2 linked regions of the Homo sapiens genome follow. The protein of the gene in region 1 purifies or fractionates together with the protein of each later gene. This does not show direct contact. Each region holds a gene or a part of one and is shown in the gene's direction. Other genes may lie near its edges.

The links. The genes of interacting proteins can lie anywhere in the genome.
Region 2: the proteins of FUCA2 (region 1) and TVP23C purify together in Homo sapiens (affinity purification with mass spectrometry, with the first as the bait; 2 studies listed by BioGRID). This does not show direct contact.

What each region holds. Positions count from the first base shown.
Region 1 is NC_000006.12:143,507,694-143,517,348, reverse strand, and holds the start of FUCA2 (plasma alpha-L-fucosidase precursor), read left to right. Parts: upstream 1-5,628; 5' UTR 5,629-5,714; coding exon 5,715-5,938; intron 5,939-9,655. UniProt on the Homo sapiens protein: Alpha-L-fucosidase is responsible for hydrolyzing the alpha-1,6-linked fucose joined to the reducing-end N-acetylglucosamine of the carbohydrate moieties of glycoproteins.
Region 2 is NC_000017.11:15,535,364-15,540,088, reverse strand, and holds the end of TVP23C (Golgi apparatus membrane protein TVP23 homolog C), read left to right. Parts: 3' UTR 1-3,109; downstream 3,110-4,725.

The sequences.
Region 1 (9,655 bases):
GCCTGAGGCTTCTCATGTTGCTTTGGTTTTGGGGTTTATTTTAGCATCTCCTCTTGATACCTCCACCTCTCCCCTCTTCTCTTGTCTTTATTCATTATTCTCGCTTATTGTTTGTCTTTGTGTTTTAGTTTCTTTTTTATTCTAATTTTGGGACACTCTTGGTTTTGAATTTCTTTGTGTTTGAATCTTTTTTTCCCCCCCAGCTCCATTCTCTGATGTCCTTTCTCTCTCTCTCTTTTTCCCTCCCTCCCTTCCTCTTTCTTTCTTTTTCTTCCTTCCTTCCTTTCTTCCTCTCTCTCTTCTCCCTTCCTTCCCTCCCTCCCTTCTTTCCTTTCTCTTTCTTTCTTTCCTTTCTTTCTTTTTTCTTTCCTTCTTTCCTTCTCCTTCCTTCCTTCCTTCCTTCCTTCTCTCTCTCTCTCTCTCTTTCTTTTCCTTCCTTCTTTTCTTTTCTTTCTTTTTTTCTTTCATCTCCTTTCTCCCTCTTGCCCAGCCCTATCTCAGTTCTGTCAGTTCCTTCTTTCTTTTTTTGCTTCCTCTTCCTCTTGAGGACCTGACCTCTTCCCTCCCACTTCTAACCAGGGCTGTGAAAACTCCGCCTTCTCTTCCAACTGGTGCAGCCCAGGGGACACTGTCTCCCTCAGCCATAAGGGCCACTGGAAAGGAGACTCAATGTGTGACTGAGACCTCATCTCCCTGAATTAGGCCTCCGTGCACAGCCACTCATTAGATCATTCATTTTTCCCGGAAGACATTGGGAAGGACGGAAGTAGAAGGCAAATGTGTCATGTGTTCTGATGCTTAGCTGCATACTAGGATCATTAAATTACCTGCCACTGACAACCCTGGTGCAGAGAAAAAGTGGCAATTTGTTCTTGTTTCTAGTCACCCTACTTGCCTCAGCAGACAGCATGCTCCTGTCCCCCATGCACACACTGGGTGGTTGGTGATCAAATTTAATTATTCTACCTGCATTAAACATAGTCAAATCTTGTCAATTAAACAGCATCTTCAGCAAATATGTAGGCTGTTCTTTGGGTAACAACGCTCAATATTGCAGATGCCTCCCCCTCCCCTGCTTCTCTCTAAGGTGGCATGGAGTAGGGGCGGGGTTCTCCAGCTTCTGGGAAGGAACACGCCGTCCCTGCCTTCTCTGGTCCTGGAGTGCTGACACCCGTTCTTTCACTGTTCCCAGATGAAGCCTGAAGCTGCTCTAATTCAAGATCTGGTCTGTATCGGGCTCCTGCCCCCACCACTCAGTTTCCACAGACAGGCAAGAGTCCTCTGAGGAATGGCTGTGAACCCCAGGTCCTTGGCACAGGAGGCCCTGCCACAGAGAACCACTCAGGACAGATTTCCAGTTAGGTTCTTGGCTACTTCTGGGTCCTGTTTGTGTCACTCGAATATCAAGGTCACCCCAGGAAAGGTAAAAAGCAGCCTCTCCATCTGTCTAACATGGCTGTACCTTGCTACACTTGCCAGTTAGCCTGAGTCCTAATCAGGACATTTCTGTCCTGATTCTCATTTAGGACTTCAGGTTAAATGGGAATCAGGACAAAATCTCTGCTTTCTGTAGGCTCCCCTGAATTGATCTAACACACACATGGTAATACTGGTCCACACGTAGACGAGGCTTAACATGTACTTCTCATGATTTAATTCTCACAACACCCCTAGGAGGGAGATGCACGATTATCACTCACATTTAATAGGTGAAGAAACTGAGGCACAGAGGTTGAACGCCTTCCCCAGGATTACACAGCCCTATGGCAGAGGCTGGCGTGGGGCCACAGCCTGGCAGCTCTCCCCTCTCTGCTGACACCCCGGGGCCTCCTCCCTTTATTCCTCTCTGCTTCTCTTCCCTGCCCCCTGGCCTGAAAAAGGCGGGTTTTCTTTTATTTCCCCCATGCCTGCTCTTCTACCGTGAAGCTGGGATATTTACCAAATAAAGACTGGTTTGGGTTCAGTTCCTTTTGAACCTTTTCTTCTGCATGTCCAGAGAGAGACTGCATTGATGCCAGCTGCCAGGCAAATGTTTCACTTCTTCCACTGTCCACTTCAGAAGAATTCTGGGGACTGCCAAGACTGGCTGGTGGCAGTCATCCAACTCCCATATGGAGATCTATCCAGAATGTGTCCTCGAGAGCCTCGCTCAGATATCAGCTCCACCTCGGCAGCTAATCTTATCCCTGTGGACACACATGGCAAGACTGCTTCCTCTGGCAGCAGCAAGGAATTTGGCTAGGGCTGGCCTCTCACCATCTCCCGCCTGGGCACCCTGAGTATCAGCAGCTGCCCAACATGCGGCTGCTGGCCGTGATGGTTCCAGAAGGGAGGCACGCCCTTCTGTCTTCATCTTGTACCCCAAGTAACCTCAGACAAACAGGATCAGAGTTGACAGTGTTCCCCATCAAGGCCACAAGCCCTTCAAATGCCTTATACATGAGCCATGTGTACCTGCAGAACCCAGGGTTTCACTCAGATTTCTGGATCCCCTATCAAAACCTTTAAATACACAGTTTAAGCCTTATGAGGTGTGATTCTATTGCTCAGTTAGCAGTAGCTTTAAGTGCAAAGACTAGCTTTGTAAGGCATTACAAACGTATAAAATGTGAATGGAATCTACAGCAGGCAGGTCTTTCCCTAAAGGACCATGTTCTAAACGACTTCATAGATTTATTTCTTTCAGTCATTTAACAAATATTTTTAAGTAGAATCTCTTCTTCCTCTTCACTTTCAGATAATACTATTTACTATTCCTTTCAAATCCTATAGCAATGGTTCCCAACCTGGTATATTAGGATTCTTATGTGTCCTGAAGGGCACTAAGGGAGGTCTTTAATATATTTTCAGTATTTCTTACAGAAAATAGACTTTTATGATAAGGTTGTACTTACCAGTTAAAAACATTTCTTTGCCTTCAAGTGAAATGACAAATGACCCAAGTGGCATCCATACAGATCTGATTACCACTCTTTAACTGAAATATATGGAAGTGTAAATAATTCATAACATGATAAAAGGGCTTTGGAAGATGGGCGTTTCTGCTATGTGGTGTTCACATGGGGAAAGGATGCCCACTTATGAGAGGACAGGGTCCTGCTGCCGCTGCATTGTCACCACAGTCATGTCTACTCTCCCTATGGCAGTTCACAGTATCATTGTCACTGTGAATATTGTCTTTTGCACTTATTACACAAACTTCTGATTAGAGAGGATGTCAAGGCATAGTGGCTGAGAAGCCCATATTTTTGTTCAAGTGTGCCCCAGGGTTCAGTGGCCACTGAGGCCCTAGATCATTCTGGGTTCCACAAACTCAATAATAAATATTTGTCAGCCCAGGCACCGTGGCTCATGCCTGTAATCCCAGCACTTTGAGAGGCTGAGGCAGGAGGATGACTTGAGATCAGGGGTTCAAAACCAGCCTTGCCAACATGGTGAAAATACAAAAGTTAGCTGGAGGTTGGGGTCTGTAATCCCAGCTACTCGGGAGGCTGAGACACGATAATTGCTTGAATCCCCGGGGGTGGAGGTGGCAGTGAGTCAACACTGTGCCACTGCACTCCAGCCTGGGCAACAGAACCAGACTCTGTCTCAAATAAAAAAAAATTGTCATCTTTATCACAAACTGGAGCTATTGCAATTGGATTCGTTGAGCCCTTTCCTCTAGAACACCCTCACTGTAAAAAAACAAAACAAAATTGGGGACTCTTACGGTGGAGCTGTGGCCCCGGGGGGCCATCTGGCATGTCATGGAGAGGAAAAATGCCCCTACACCTGCAGTGACAGCGCCCTCTGCTGCTCCCATCTCTCTGCAGAGATGGGTTGGGATAATGCAGGCAACAGCCACTTAGTGTCAAGTTCTTCACTCAATAATTAGAACCCCAGTTCACTGGAGAGCTTCAACAAACATTTTGAGTGCTGCTTTTCTGCTGTAATTGTAGGCACTACAGAAAAGAAGGTCATTATGAATGCCCTCAAAAAGCTCACAGTCTGATGGGAAATCAGACCTGTACCACCTAGCTACTAGAGGATGCGTGAAATCCTATGTGTGCTTGGAAGGAGGTGTTATGAAGCAGATCAGGGAAAGTACAACATTCTGGGAGGGAAGGGTGGTGGCAGAAAGCTTCACAAAAGAAGCAGCATTTGAATTGGCTCATTGAAGGGTAATGATTTCATGGGGGCAGAAGCAGTTGAGGATTCTGGCTTTACTTTGAAAACACTTACGAGGTGGAGGAGAGGCTGGGCTTGGTGGCTCATGCCTGTAATTCTAGCACTTTGGGAGGCCAAGGCGGGCAGATCACCTGAGGTCAAGAGTTTGAGACCAGCTTGTCCAACATGGTGAAACCCTGTCTCTACTAAAAAAGAAAAGAAAAATACAAAAATTAGTCTGGCACAGTGGCATGTGCCTGTAGTCCCAGCTACTCTGGAGGCTGAGGCAGGAGAATCCTTGAACCCGGGAGGCAGAGGCTGCAGTGAGCCTAGATCATGTTACTGCACTCAAGCCTGGGCGAGAGAGCGAGACTCTGTCTCAAAAACAAACAAACAAACAAACAAACAAACAAACAAACAAACCAAACAAGAGGTGGAGGTGATAAGCTTCCCAAATATCCTTTTGATTAATCTTTCCAAGTTGCTGGCCTTTTTTCCCAAGCTTGCAGGTTTCTTAAACATTCATTCCACTGGTTTCACCTGTCTCAGATCATCTCCTTGTTCAATGCAGTGGTTCTCAGGAAAGTTTGGACCACCAATCAGAAACATCACAATTTTGTTTTCTTTCTTTTTTTTTTTTTTTTTGAGATGGAGTCTCACTCTGTAGCCCAGGCTGGAGTGCAGTGGCACCGTCTCTGCTCACTGTAACTGCCTCCCGGGTTCAAGCGATTCTCCTGCCTCAGCCTCCCGAGTAACTGGGACTACAGGCGTCCGCCACCACGTCCCGCTAATTTTTTGTATTTTTAGTAGGGACGGGGTTTCACCGTGTTAGTCAGGATGGTCTCGATCTTCTGACCTTGTGATCCGCCCGCCTCGGCCTCCCAAAGTGTTGGGATTACAGGAGTGAGCCACCGCGCCCGGCCCAACATCAGAACATCCTAGAAGTAGGAACTGGGTAGAAACGCAAATTCTTGGGCCCCAACCTAACTGCTGAATCTGAAGCTCTTGGAATTTCATCTGATACAAATTCAAGGTTGACAACCACGGTTCTAACATGCAGGATCTTGGGAGCTGATACAGAGGCCGAGAAGGATCTAGGTTGCTTTCCATGTTCCATCATGGCGAGACCCGGCTGAAGTTCCTGCCTTGACCTTCTCGTGCACGCTTCGGACGTGTGGAGCAGCCACCAGGGTGGGCTGGGGGCATTGTCTTCTTGGGCAGTTTCTTGGTCAGGGTCGTGTCTGCTTGAGGGCAGAGGCGCTGGCCACAAGGCCCTGACTCAGACTCATATTTTCCCCTCAAGAGGACAGAGCCTTAGCAAAGCCGTCCCAGCTGGCTTTGGGGTAATGCTGGCCTTAGTTATGCTGAGCGATGCAGCCCTCCTGAGGTCATTCGGAACGCCCGGGAGAGTGGCCACTCCCGCCCCAGAGGGGGAAGGGTGGCCGGTTTCCAAGTCCGACTTGGTCAGGTGACCGCGGCGCGGCATACTCAGCGGCAGAGACGGAAGAACAGCGCTCCCGAGGCCGCGGGAGCCTGCAGAGAGGACAGCCGGCCTGCGCCGGGACATGCGGCCCCAGGAGCTCCCCAGGCTCGCGTTCCCGTTGCTGCTGTTGCTGTTGCTGCTGCTGCCGCCGCCGCCGTGCCCTGCCCACAGCGCCACGCGCTTCGACCCCACCTGGGAGTCCCTGGACGCCCGCCAGCTGCCCGCGTGGTTTGACCAGGCCAAGTTCGGCATCTTCATCCACTGGGGAGTGTTTTCCGTGCCCAGCTTCGGTAGCGAGTGGTTCTGGTGAGTGCGCTCCCTTTTGTCTCGTCTGCCGCGCTTTTGTCCCCACCCGCAGCCTCCAGCCACCACCCAGCGGGCCTGGTTCGCCGCCTGGTGCTGCCTGCACCCTCGTCGGTTTCACCTCCCACTGCGTTACCCGCGTTTCGCACTTCCGGGTGTCGAATATGTGGTTTCCTGCCTAAGTGCTTCTGCTGGATGAACAGGGAATTTTTCTTCCGTGTGACTGTAAGAGTTTTCAGATACTCCTGACTCCTCAGCTTCTTCATAGTTGCGCATATTAAGCTGTAGTTATGACACTACAACATCGAGCTACTACAGACATTCATCAGTTTGTGCAGGGGCATCACACGAGCGGTGACTCAGGCACAATGGCCTATGGTTGCTCTGCTGCTACCTGCCAATTTACAGTCGTTCTGCCATGAAGTTATGGTTAAAACATAGTCATGAGTATGTGAAACGACTGTTCATTGAACACCATTGGCTACTTAATGTTAACATGTTACCCATGTGTGGCTCTAGGAACTTTTTAAAGAGGTTCTAGAATGGTACTCTTAACACAACCCAGTTATCATACTGCCGTATGAAAGGTGCTACACAAAAATCTGTGCGTTAGATTTTACCTTGAGATCTATGTGAAAATGTGCATGTAATTTCTTAAACTGTTGCACATGTCTTTTCTGACTAAATGCTACAAGTATTAAGTCCTTCAAAACAGAAATATTTTGTGTGCATATATAGAAACATACACATAATATATTCTTTTTTTTTTTTTTTTGAGACATAGTCTCATTCTGTCACCCAGGCTGGAGTGCAGTGGCACCATCTCGGCTCACTGCAACCTTCGCCGCCCGGGTTCAAACGATTCTCGCGCCTTAGCCTCCTGAGTAGCTGGGACTACAGGCGCACGCCACCATGCCTGGCCAATTTTTTTGTATTTTTTAGTAGAAACGGGGTTTTGCCATGTTAGCCAGGCTGGTCTTGAACTCCTGACCTCAGGTGATCCGCGGTGGCTCATACCTGTAATTCCAGGACTTTGGGACACATAATATATTCTTAAGTAAAAGAACGGAATCATTAAACAGTATTTATTTGAATCAACTATATACTACATAAATAGTATACATCCAAATTAACATACTATATTTAGTAGACACAATACAGAGTATGAACTATATATTATATTAACATTACATAGTATACATGGTACCATGCTCTACTCTAGGGGTAGAAAAATTACACCTCCATTCTGTTAGGGTCTCTGCTGGGTCCAAGAATTAAATTGACATTGTGTGACTAAATTATGTGGGGAGACTTAAATAATAAATTTTAGCAAGTTCTGTACAGTATTCTACTTCTTGTCTTTGAAGCTTAGGATGTTGCCTTTCCTTCTAGTACAGAGTGCCTTTCATACTGGAATTTCATCTTCTCTCCTAAGAAACAGCACAAAGGGCAAAGTGCTCTTCATGCACCTGCTATTTTTCGAGTTTCTTTACCTTTAAAAATGTGCCAAAATAGCATATTTTAACCCTTTCATGACAAAGAAATTGACTACCTGCAACCAGTAACCTTTCTTATTGGTAGGTCAATTGATGTAAAAAATAAAACTGGATAAGCTATGGAGAATTATTCATATTTTAAATAATTCACCTTCTAAAACAGAGACTCTTTATTCTTATGCCAAAACATAGCTACTTCAAAAAGATGTTACAAATCTTTATTTGCATGTTTTGGGCTGTAAGGAATCTTGAGCTTGTTTTGGAAATATTTTAGATTAGTGTGGTACATAATTAACAACTTTCTTCCCCCTAAATTGTATCTTATATTATCATTTTGTTCAACCATGAAGATTAGGTAAAGATATATTGGTGCCAAAGAGGATTTGACATTTTTGACTGAGACTAGTACTATGCCAAAATAAAACAGCTAGTTTTGAGTCATTTTATTCTTTGCTATGAATAACTTCATTTTCTACAGATAAACCCATGGTTATTTTGACCTAGAATAATAAAGATACTTCTCATACTAAACAAAATAGAGAACAGATTCCTGATGATCTGAAAATGCATTAACCCTGTGGAAGATTCTTTAATTACCTGTGATTTCCCTTTGTATCCTCTGCTCCTCACTCTCAATTTGACTTTCGGGGAATCAACAGTATAGATGAGTATATGTGACTGTTTTAAATGTCTATTAAAAACCAAATATAAATGATAGACCTTTACCATAAATGCCTCTTTTCATCTCTCAGCATGAAATTCAAGTCTAGACTGTAGGGGACAGTGCAGGTTCAAATTAGATGATGCTAGGAGAAATTCCTTATTCTTGTTCAACTTTCTGAATGTCCCAGTTTCTCTTTTGCAGTTCAATTTAAAATGTAATGCCCGTAGTCCCAGATACTCAGGAGGGTGAGGTGGGACGATCGCTTGAGCCCAGGAGTTCAAGGCTGTGGTGTGGTATGATCATGACACTGCACTCCAAACTGGGTAATGGAGCAAGACCCTGTCTCAACCAATCAATTAATCAATAATAAATAAATAAATAATAAAAATGCTTCAAGGATTTTAAACCCAACTAAAAGGTATAATGATAGGGGCTTGTTATCTCACATAACAGGAAATTTAGAGTAGTCGGTTCATTGATGAAATCAAAGACACGGGCTCTTTCTTTCATCCTCAGCCTGGGGACTTGTCCCTTCATGGTCACAGGATGGCAGCCAGGCACCATAACTTCACACAACCCTGCCCAAAGGCAGGAAGGCCAGTGTCTCTTTTCATTAGGAGGGAAACCATTTCCACAGTCCCCAAAGTTGGCTTTCCCTCAAGTTCCCTTGGCCAGCATGGATCTCACATCCCTGTCGCAGCTGTAGTGGAAGCTGGGAAATTACGTAAATACGACTTTTGGGCAGGCAAACAGCATGCCTGCCGCATAGTATGCCCTTCAATTATTTCTTCTTAGCAGAGTCTCCTGATCGTCTTGGGAAATATAGTGCTGATTATGGATTTGCTTATCCTGTAGAAATACTCATATGAAAGGAATGGTGATAGAAAAAGCAGGAGGTGGGTCAAAAATGGGGGTTGCATCTATTTCATGAGGATAGTTACTGCTGTGTTTATCTAAAATGTGTAGATGTGCTTTTCCTCATGAAGTCTTGCTTACGCAGTTTAGGGTCAATATACCATTGCTTAGAATGAATGCGTATAGCAAGTAATTGTTGAAGGTTGAGTCCATTTATTAAAATAACAGCATCTTTTTAATTTTACTTTTGCCTCCCTTTCTGTCCTGTGCCTCCAAAGTGTTCTCTACTACTGAATATAATAGATGCATATTATGTTTTAGGCATGTAGTCTTCCTTTTAGAAGCCCTAATCACTTATGTTACAAGGGACAATGTGTAAAGACATATACTACATGTTGTGATTTAAAAGTGAAGAATTAAAAGAGAATGGGGCTGGACACGGTGACTCATGCCTGTAATCCTAACACTTCGGGAGACTGAAGCAGGAAGATCGCTTGAGCCCAGGAGTTTAAGACCAGCCTGGGCAACATATGGAAACCACATCTCTACAAAGAAAAAAAAAATAGCCAGGTGTGGTGGCACGTGCCTGTGGTCCTAGCTACTCAGGAGGCTAAGGCGAGAGGATTGCTTGAGCACAGGAGGTCAAGGTTGCAGTGAACCATGATTCCATTACTGCATTCCAACCTGAGTGACAGAGTGAGACCC
Region 2 (4,725 bases), on another chromosome or scaffold:
CAGAGTTTTGCTCTGTCGCCCAGGCTGGAGTGCAGTGGTGCAATCTCGGCTCACTGCAACCTCTGCCCCCCGGGTTCATGTGATTCTCCTGCCTCAGCCTTATGAGTAGCTGGGATTACAGGCGCATGCCACCACGCCCAGCTAATTTTTTGTATTTTCAGTAGAGATGGGATTTCATCATGTTAGCCAGGATGGTCTCCATCTCATGACCTTGTGATCTGCCCACCTCAGCCTCCCAAAGTGCTGGGATTACAGGCGTGAGCCACCGTGCCCAGCCTGTATGTTGTATGGTTTTAGGGAGAACAGTTGAATCACAAGAAGACCATAACATTTGTACTCAGATGTTTTTTTCCCCCTAGAACATAAGGATTTTACTATAATACCTCAACATCAGGGTTTTCAGCAGGATGAGTAGTAGTCATAGGTAAATAATTATTGGTTAAATCTCTTGGGAAAAGTGACTAGGTCTTTTTTTTTTTTTTTCTTGAGATGGAGTCTTGCTCTGTCGCCCAGGCTGGAGTGCAGTGGCGTGATCTCGGCTTACTGCAAGCTCCGCCTCCCGGGTTCACGCCATTCTCCTGCATCAGCCTCCCGAGTAGCTGGGACTACAGGCGCCGCCACCACGCCTGGCTTTTTTGTATTTTTAGTAGAGACGGGGTTTCACCGTGTTAGCCAGGATGGTCTCGATCTCCTGACCTCGTGATCCGCCTGCCTCCGCCTCCCAAAGTGCTGGGATTACAGGCGTGAGCCACGGCGCCTGGCCGTGACTAGGTCTTTATATGAGTAATACCTTGCATTTGGTTAGTACAGTAGGTTGGGCAAGTGATATTATGTAGGACAGGGATTCTTAAACTCGAACATACATGAGAATCACCTAGAGGGCACAAGATTGCTGGGTTCCACCTCCAGACTCCTTATTCAGTAGATCTGGGGGTGGAGTCTCATAATTTGCATTTCTCCCAAGTTTCTGGGTGGTACTGAGGGCACTGGTCCAGGGATTACATTTTAGATAACTAAAGCCCCGAGAAATTAAATTATTTACTTAAGATTATACAGCTAATAGTGGTACAAAGCTAGATCTTAAACCCAGCCCTCTGTACTCAAAATTTATTGTTCTTTTTATTCTACTGTACAGTTTCTCTCACAGAAGATGAAAAGTAGAGAAAATGAATATTCATGTAGGGACATGATCATCTCATTCTGAAGGATTTTTGCATGGCTCCAATATACCTTTACTGTGGTCCACCTTAGGGTAACTTTCATGTATGTGCTTATTAGGTTTTTTTCGTTAGAATTTTCAGTGTTTCTGAAGGTGGGGAGGAACATGGAATACAGGTGAAATTAAACCTTAAACCTGGCATAACATGGATAGGGTTAGTGTCTTACATGGTATCCGGCGTCTGCTCAAATGAGACAAACTGGACAGCTGGGTGGATGATGGTATCCATGGATTTACTTCATTAGCGCATGTCTACTTTTTTATTTATTTATTTTTTTTGAGACAGAGTCTCACTCTGTTTGCCCAGGCTGGAGTGCAGTGGCGCGATCTCGGCTCACTGCAAACTCCACCTCCCGGGTTCATACTATTCTTCTGCCTCAGCCTCCCGAGTAGCTGGGATTGCAGGCGCCCGCCACCACGCCTGGCTAATTTTTTGTATTTTTAGTAGAGACGGGGTTTCACTGTGTTAGCCAGGAGGGTCTCGATCTCCTGACCTCATGATCCACCCTCCTCGGCCTCCCAAAGTGCTGGGATTACAGGTGTAAGCCACGGCGCCCAGCCTAGCATGTCTACTTTTTAATGTGATTGGGCCATTGTATGTAAGGTAATGCTCTGCTTAGAAATATAGAATGTTTTCCTAGGCCTAGGCCCCAAGTCCATGGTGTGTGAAGTGAAATAACTTTGATGTTAAGGAGTTCTTTTTTTGTCTTTTGCGGAACACTGGAGATGATCAGACTTCCTGAATAGAGAAAGCTTATGTGCTTTGTTACATTGGGGAACAACTGAAGAGATTCTTGACTCAACCTTTTAGAGCTTAGTCCATGTTGCAACGAGGAGTGTTGGCTTTGTTTTTCCACTTAAAAACTTTATTTATAAAAAGGAAAAGTAGTTTTCATATTAAGTTTTTATTTCCTTTCCAGCAGTTGGGGCTAGAAAGTATATGTTGGCACTAGAAACATTGTTAAGATTTGTTCTGTGGTGTAGGTATGCACATTCCATAGGTATGCACACGGCCATGTAATACCTGTATATCCCAAGTTAATGAAAGTGTTCATTTACACAGATAATGGAGACCTTTGCATTTTGATCCATAGAACATAGGAGGATGTTCTTAGTCTGTCTCAAAGCTCTATATGTTTACATATTATTTCTGTAGATTGTTTTCAGGAGAAAGTTTTGCTTCTATGGTAAGAGTGAGCACTTTGGCTTATGTATAAGTTAGAAATAATTGTTAGTTTTTAATATGTACTTCATGGGGAAATTTCTTAGACGTATGCAAGCAAGTGAAAACAATTAGGGCCAGTGGTATTAACTACTTTATAAAATTTTATTTTTGTTTGTAAGAAGTTATCTACTTAAGGCCCAGTTAATATAAGTGGAATCATCATAGTTTAAGGAATACCCAGAGATTGCTGCTATTCTATTTATTTTACAGAAAGGATAGCTAGATTGAAAGTTCTTCAGTGGACCTTGAGCTAATAGATCTTTTACCACTAAAAGAGCATTATTCTCATGTCATAATGAGAATAATAATTTACATACTTGGCATAATAAATGCCTAAAAGACATTTTATTTTCTGAATCTATTTTTTTCTTGCTATAATGGGGATATTGTAAATTATGCATTTGTATTAATGGTATTTCTTAAAGCAATCTATGTAACTGTAAATTAAACCAATCTACAAACTATTGTAGGCATCTGTAAATTCTGTTGTAGGTATTATAAACTTTGTTGAAGTCTTAATCAGCAGATTATGTTGTGAATATATTTGTACATTGTTAAAATAGTTTTTAAGATTATTTGTTTAATTGAATAAGTGTCTTATTGGAGTGATAGCTTTGAAGGTGCAAAACTTTATATTTGTATAAAATTCTACTATTTACAAGGCATTTGACATGTGTAATCTCATGTAACCCTCATGATAAATATGTAATACTTTAGATGATATAACTGAACTTCAGGTTAATGAGTGACTTTCCCAAGGAAAACAGATTGCAGGAATATCTGTAGGATATAAAACATGATATATTAGTATTTTTTAGAGAAAATATTTGCTCTAAATGCCCTTTCCTTTCTTAAAAATTAATAATTTGTTAAGAGCTTGTTTATTTTACTTAGCTGTTCTGTCTGGTGAGAATTGATACTGCACTAAAGACATTTTAAAATACAATCTGAAAGATCTAACCTAAATCTTTAGGGTTGAGAGTCTAACAAAGGATACATTGGTGTAGTTCTTTAGGTAACTGTGTTATTTGAACTGCATCCTAAACCAAGTAACAATGAATTTTAGAATATGCATGTGGTAGGAGCTACCCTGTATTCCCTAATATTCGTTTTTCTCCTTCTACAGATTTCCCACCTAATTAGCTAGGGAATGGCATCCTGGAATAAAGATAAAACTTTTCCTAGATTTTATTGCTGTATCTTGGTGTGGCCACACCACCAAGTTTGGGCCAATGGATACACTTCCAGGAAGTATCCTTAAAAGGAGGAGGCACGCCCATCCCTTCCCCCTTTTTCCTGAAAGGTAGACACAATAGCAGAAACTAGAGCAGCCATCTTGGACTATGTGATAAAGGCTTCGTTTTGTGAATGGCAGAGAAATGAGGTAGATACTGTCTGAATCCCATCTTGTGGGTATAGTAGCCCTGAACTACTTGTCTGAATTTTTTTTTTTGAAACAGAGTTTTTGCTCTTGTCACCCAGGCTGGAGTGCAGTGGTGTGATCTCGGATCATTGCAACCTCTGCCCTCTGGGTTCAAGTGATTCTCCTGCCTCAGCCTCCCTAGTAGCTGGGATTACCAGCCTGCCACTACACCTGGCTAATTTTTGTATTTTTAGTAGAGACGGGATTTCACCACAATGGCCAGGCTAGTCTCGAATTCCTGACCTTAGGTGATCCGCCCGCCTCAGCCTCCCAAAGTACTGAGATTACAGGCGTGAGCCATCGTATCTGGCGACCTGTTTGAACTTTTAATAAAAGTGAAGGGAGGAACTACCTTCTTCAAGTGTTAATGTTCTGGCTTCTCTGTTGCTCATAGCCTAACTGGATTCTTGTCGATACAGTGCACTTTGAGCATTATCCATGATTATTTCCATTTGAACTAACTTTCCATATTGTACTAACAACTCCAGTTGTTAGTACAGTATTAGAGATGTAATAATTTAGTAAATACATAGTTGTCCTTTATGTAGTAATTAAGTGAATATTGTAGTTGCTGCCGAGTTGCACTGTTCAGATGCTGTTGCTACGTAAAATTCCACTCCTAGAATTACTGGTGAAAAGTCATTTTATTATGCTCACAAATTGTGTGGGACAGGAATTTGGATGGAGCACAGTGATGGCTGGGGAAGGAGCCAGGGAGTGGCAGGGAGCTTTTCAGCTACTGGCCTGGAGGTTGACATTGGCTGTCAGCTGTGGCCTCAGCTAGGCTCTCGGTTGGAACACCTACACTGTGTAGTTTCTCCCTGTGGGCACATTTGACTTCTTCACAACCTGGCACTG